Linked DNA regions of Homo sapiens. The protein of the gene in region 1 interacts with the protein of each later gene in a pairwise test. Each region holds a gene or a part of one and is shown on either strand. Other genes may lie near its edges.

The links.
Region 2: the proteins of DOK5 (region 1) and AHDC1 interact in a two-hybrid assay, tested with the Homo sapiens proteins (one large-scale study listed by BioGRID and IntAct).

What each region holds. Positions count from the first base shown.
Region 1 is NC_000020.11:54,583,545-54,587,373, reverse strand, and holds part of DOK5 (docking protein 5), read right to left. Parts: intron 1-3,829.
Region 2 is NC_000001.11:27,533,674-27,536,202, forward strand, and holds the end of AHDC1 (transcription factor Gibbin), read right to left. Parts: intron 1,244-2,529; 3' UTR 572-1,243; downstream 1-571. UniProt on the Homo sapiens protein: Transcription factor required for the proper patterning of the epidermis, which plays a key role in early epithelial morphogenesis. Directly binds promoter and enhancer regions and acts by maintaining local enhancer-promoter chromatin architecture.

The DNA.
Region 1 (3,829 bases):
GAAGTGAAATAAATATCCTCCATGCACAACACTAATCTGATTATTTCATTTCTCTGCTTCTTAATCTCCATCAGCCCTTTTCATAGTATAAATGCAAATTTCTTAGCATGAAATGTCACACCACTTCTCCTCAAAAAGTGCCCAAACCGATCACGTCAGTGACTCAGCACCATGTATCTTATTCTCCAACTACACCAAGTGCCTCAGGACTCACCAGATACAACTGTTGATGTGTTTGTTTATTTTTATTTTTTGCCACTACCCCAATTCAAGCCACTATCATCTTGTCACAACTACTTATTGATCTTTCCACTTCCATTTTAATCCCCATTAATGCATGCTGCACATAGCAGATTTTTTTTTCAAAACATAAGTCTTGAAATATTACTGTGCATAAACAGAACACTTCAGTGACTTCCCATTGCACGTGGGACAAAAGCCTGCATCCTTAGAATGACCACCAAGACCCCCTGTGGTCTTGCCCACGCTATCTCACCACTGTCCTCTCTATACCTTTCCCATGTGCTCTATGTCTCAGCCACCGTGGACTTTGTTCAGTTCCCAGAAGACACTGTGGTTCTCCTGGCACAGGGCCTTCTCTATCTCTCCTTACCTCACTCCCATTCCCACATGGGTCTCAGTTTAAATCTCAGTTACCCACAGAGGCCCCACTGGACACCTCCCATCCTAACACCTAGTCAGTCTCAAGGCTACACCATCCAATGATGTCCTATACCTTTCCTATTTGTTATTGGTTTCACACCCATCTTGCCTGAAAAGTGAGAGTTACATAGGGCAGGAATAGTTTTTGTTTTGTTTTGTTTTTGCTCTGCTCATCATTGTGCTCCCTGAGTCAAACACAGAACCCCTCACATATTGAGAACTCAATAATTATAAGTGGACTATATGAATGAAAGACCCAACTCACCCATAAATTTACTTGTATGGTGCTTCTAGAAGGCAAATGCCTCTCTTTCCTGCTTCTTTTCTCCAGGGAAATTTCACTTTTCCCCCAAGGTCCACTTCCTCTAGGAAATGTGCCCTGGCCTTAGTGTCAACTAACATTTCTCTTCTCTCTATTCTCATAAATGCTGCATGAAGCTCTACTGTATTATTTGTTGTCTCTCTGCAGCACCCAGCTAGACTTGAGTTGCCAGCAATGACTTACTGAAGGGCTGAATCAATGAAAACAATCATACTGATGCCAACATGCATTGGTCCCCACACATATGCCACATAACGTGCCTAGTTTATTGTTGTTGTTTGAGATGGAGTCTTTCTCTGTTGCCCACGCTGATCTCAGCTCACTGCAACCTCCACCTCCCAGGTTCAAGCGATTCTCCTGCTTCAGCCTCCCGAGTAGCTGGAATTACAGGCGCCCACCACCACACTCAGCTAATTTTTTTGTATTTTTAGTAGAGACAGGGTTTCACCATTTTGGCCAGGCTGGTCTCAAACTCCTGACCTCAGGTGATCTGCCCGCCTCAGCCTCCCAAAGTGCTGGGATTATAGGCGTGAGCCACTGCACCCGGCCAGCATTTTTATAGAGACTATCTCATTTGATCTTCATAAAAGCTCTGTGAAATAAATATTACTATTATCACCTTTTTCACAGATGAGGAAACTAGACTGCGAAAGGTTAAAGTCATACAACCAAGTTCACAGCTTAAAAAATGAAGCAAACTAACCCTAAAGCCTGTGCTTTTAATGCATCTGAAACACTAATGACTAACTAAACACTTTCAACCAGAGGCTCTTTAGCCCCTGAAAGCCACCTCTCATTTTAAGACTTCTTTCTTTTCAACATGGTTAAAAATTGAGGTGGAGGTAGAGCACGTGTGCCAACTTTATTCTGACTCTCTAGTGAGACATTATGTAAGAGTAGTCCACCCCAGCCTGAAACACAGCAATGACTTTGAAACATGTGACTTCATTACCTATCCATTAAGGGCAAAGAGGAAGAGATAGTCACCTGAAATAGTCAGGAAATGTAGGGGGAATTGTATGAGTCAGAACACAATTACCCATTTAGGAAATTGGTTTAGGAAATCAGCAACTGAACACCCCCGCTCAGGAGAAGCAAATGACCATTCCCAGAGCAGCCAGGGTCATAATTTTATGGGTCAAAGGACAATCAAATTTTAAAGCAACGGTCTCTGTCTCTACCTCAGAACTACACCTAGTGGGCATGTGCACACACACACACAACACACACACATACACAACACACACAAGCCTTGCAATCTACACTAATTCATAATGTGATAATGGAAACTTCCTCAATACACATGCTAAAGTATAGTAATAATTTAGTAATTTAGTAATAAAGTAAAGTAATACTTATGATAACTAAATTTTGCAGAGATATTTACAAGTCACATAAAACTTTTCAAAGATGTATTTATTTCCACTATCATTCTATTTTGCAAATGAGAAAACCAAGGCAAGACATAATAGTCCTCTTACAAAGAAATCTGCCTTATAAGAAATGCTAAAGGAAGTTCTTCAAGTTGAAATGAAAGGACACCAGATAGTAACATGAAAGCAAATGAAAATATATAATTTACTGGAAAAGGTGTGTGTGTGTGTGTGTGTGTGTATATCTAGATATATATACACACACACATATTATAGTGTATATATATATACACACACACACGAGTACATATTATAGTACTATATATATATACACACACATACAAATATATATTATAGTATATATACATATATACAAACACACAAATACATATTATAGTACTATAACATTACATTACATGTAATGTTACGAATATTGTATAAACAGCTTTTAATTTTGATATAGAAGTAAAAAGATAAAAGTATAAAAACTATAAAATTATGTTAATGGATACATAATAAAAAGATGAAATTTGTTACAATGATAACATAAAGGAGTCTGGTGGAATAGTTCAGCTTTTGTATGTGATTGAAGTCAAGTTGTTATCATCTTAAAATAGATGATCATAACTATAAAATGTGTTATATAAGCCCCACAGCAACCAGAAAAGAAATACCTATAAGAGACACACAAAAGAAAATGAGGAAGGAATCAAAATATGACCCTAAAGAATTTTTTAAATCACAAATACGACAGCAAGAGAAAAAGATAAGGACAAAAGAGCTACAAGAAATACAGAAAACAATAAAATGATAAAAGTAATCATTTCCTATCAATATTTATTTATTTTTATTATTTATTTATTATTATTTTTTAAACAGAGGCTCACTCTGTCACCCAGGCTTGTGCACAGTGGTGTGATCTCAGCTAACCTCTGCCTCCTGGGTTCAAGCAATTCTCCTGCCTCAGCCTTCTGAGCAGCTGAGACTATAGGTGTGCACCACCGTGCTCGACTAATTTTTTTTTTTTTTTGTATTTTTAGTAGAGACAAGGTTTTGCCATGTTGGGACCTCAAGTGATCCACTCGCCTCAGCCTCCCAAAGTGCTAGGATTACAGGTATGAGCCACTATGCCTGGTGCAGTAATTACTTTAAATGGAGATAGCTTAAACTGCCCTATCAAAAGATAAATTAAAAACCAGGTCCAACGATATGCTGTCTACAAGAGACTCACTTTAGATTTAAGGACACACATAGGCTGAGAGTGAAAAAATGGAAAAAGATAACCCATAGAAACAGCAGTCAAAAGAAGAGTAGGGGTGGCAATACTTATATCAGATTAAATAGGCTTTAAGTCAAAAACTATCATGAGAGACAAAGAAGGACACTATAATGAAAAAAAGATGAATTAACTAGTAAGATATAGCAATTATAATATATATGTATCCCATACCAGAGCAACCAAATATATGAA
Region 2 (2,529 bases), on another chromosome or scaffold:
TAGTGGGAAAGGGAGGCCCCATGAGGGTTCCGGGACTTAGGACGGAATGAGTGTCGCCAAGAGAGATGTCCCTGAACCAGAGTAGAACTGTGAGGCCCAAAGGCCATGAATACACAGGACACACAAAGGGACTCGAGGCAGAGACCTGGGACCTTGGATGGAATAAGGGGGTCCAGAAGCAGGAGCCCCATGATGGAGGTTCCTCAGGGAGAGGAAACCCAGCATTTGGGGAGACCTTGGACTTGGGATAGAATATAGGGAGAGTCAGAGGAGACCCAGGACCTAGGACAAAATGGAGGTCCAAGAGGCAGAATCCCTGGACCTGGGACTGAACGCATGATCAAGGGCCAGGATGTCCTCGGCAGCAGAGTGGGGAGCTCAGAGGCAGGGGAGACGCAGGGCCTGGAGTGAAATGAGGGGGAACCCAGATCTCAGGCAGAAGGGAAAACTCAGTGGCCAGGAACACGTGTAGGTATTTCAACTCCTCTGGAGAACCAGTAGCTGGTGACAAAACCCAGCGGTGTCCCTTCCATTCCCTCCACCCTCACTCCCCCTTTCACAAGACACAAGGTTGGTTTTTTTTTTTTGTTTTTTTTTTGTTTTTTTTTTGCTTTTTTTCATTTCTTTTTAATACAAACTTGGATCTTTGGGTGTGTCCTGCCAACAGAAAACAACAACAACAACAACAGAAGAGAAAACCCAAAAGAGTGAAAAATAAGAAAGAAAAAAAAAGCTCCCGCAAGAGGTTCTTCTCCCTCCCCCCCACCATGCGAATTTGCACACCACGGGACCACAGCAGGTTTACAGAATGCAATATACAATCCACGATTTATAATAAAACAGTATATACAATAAATAGGATATTGTTCATTTTTGTCAAACGACCTGTAGATAAATTTCTCAGTGCATACTTGCAGGGGCTCTGGACACCTCGGGGCCCCGCTCGCAACCTCTTGCACACGCTCGCTCTCTCGCTCTCTCTCTCTCTTTTTTTTTTTTGTCTTTTTCTAAAACTGTGTTTTGTTTTTAAGTTTTGTACATTTTTAAAAAGTATTTACAATTGCTGGTTTTGTGCAGAAAGGGCTCACCTTCGGCTTCTGCGTGGAGGAGATGGGTGGGAGGGGGTGGAGGGAGATGGGTCTGCAGGGGGTGTAGGGGGCAGGGTGGGAGGCAGAGGGGCAGGAGCTCCTGCCAGAGGACGATGTGGACGCTGGGAGGGATCTTGGCGTTGGTTTTCTGAAAGCTGCAAAGAAACACAAGAGAAGAGGCAGGAGTGAGCGGCACGCATCGACTGTGCTCTGAGATCAGGGAAGTGAAGAGGGAGACCCCCACCCAGCTCCTCCCAGGATTCAGCAGGGTGAGGGGGAAAGCTAACCACTGTTCTTTCTCACAAAAACTCAGACCTGCCTTCTCTGAGCCCAGTTTCCCCATCTGTAAAATATGCGTGTCCAAGCCCCAAAACACAGGGTGAAGCAGGTGCTGGGTGAGGAGGTGGGGTTCCAGGCAGTGGAATTTGTTAAGAGCTTGGGCTCTGGAATCAGACACAGCTGAGTTCAAATACCAGTGCCACCCTTTAGTAGTGCTATGACCTTGGGCATGTTGTTGAACTTCTGTGAGCCTCAGTTTGCCCATCTGTAAAAAGAAGATAACTGAACTACCCCATTGGTTTGCTGGGAGGATTCAGCGGTATAGGACAGATGAAGCCTGGTCCTTAAGTGCATAATAAATTATACTGATTATTATTCATTATTATTTTTCTGGGGCAGTTAGGCTCTCCAAACCTGCCTCCTCATGTCATGATGAGTTTAGTAATTCCTCCAACTTAGGCTGTTCTGAGGAATGACATCATGGGGAGGGCAGGGCCTCAGCACACAGCACAGGTGTGAACAACTGCTTTTATTTCTTCTAAATCCAATCCTCTTCTTACCAATGCCATTCTGTTCCTTAGAGAGGTGAGGTGAGGAGGAAGTCTTTCTCAGTGAAAGAACAGAGAAACTGCCCAACACAATGCCATCTGTGTTTGGCTTAACCCTGCCTTCCTGAAGCTCAGACACTCCCAAGTTCCCAGTTCCTCCCATCGCCAGACACTCGAGATTGGAAGTACCCCTTTTTCCCAGACAGTTCTCATTATGCTTGCGGGGCCCTGGGGATCTGACTTCCCTACCCAGACCCCCAGCTTGGCTAGACCCCCTGGATTCACAGCTCTGCTAGGGTGAGTGAGAAGGTCCCCTGAAGGACAGGGATGGGCTCGGGACTTCCTAAGAGCTCCAGTCATTATTAGCCTGGTCCTTTCAGACTTCTGTCCTCCTCTCAGAGCCCCGAGACACACATCTCCCACCCTCAGTGTGCGACCATCTCCATCCGAATTAAAGGGCGAGGTGAGGATGCTGAAAGGGCCTCCTCAGGTTCCTTAGGAGCCCATCCGTCCTCCCCCACACCAGCAGGAATCAGGCGGCGGCAGAAAGCCTCTCCTCCCTTGTACTTTCTTGGCTTCCCTTTCTACCAGAGCCACATTTAAATTCTGCTCAG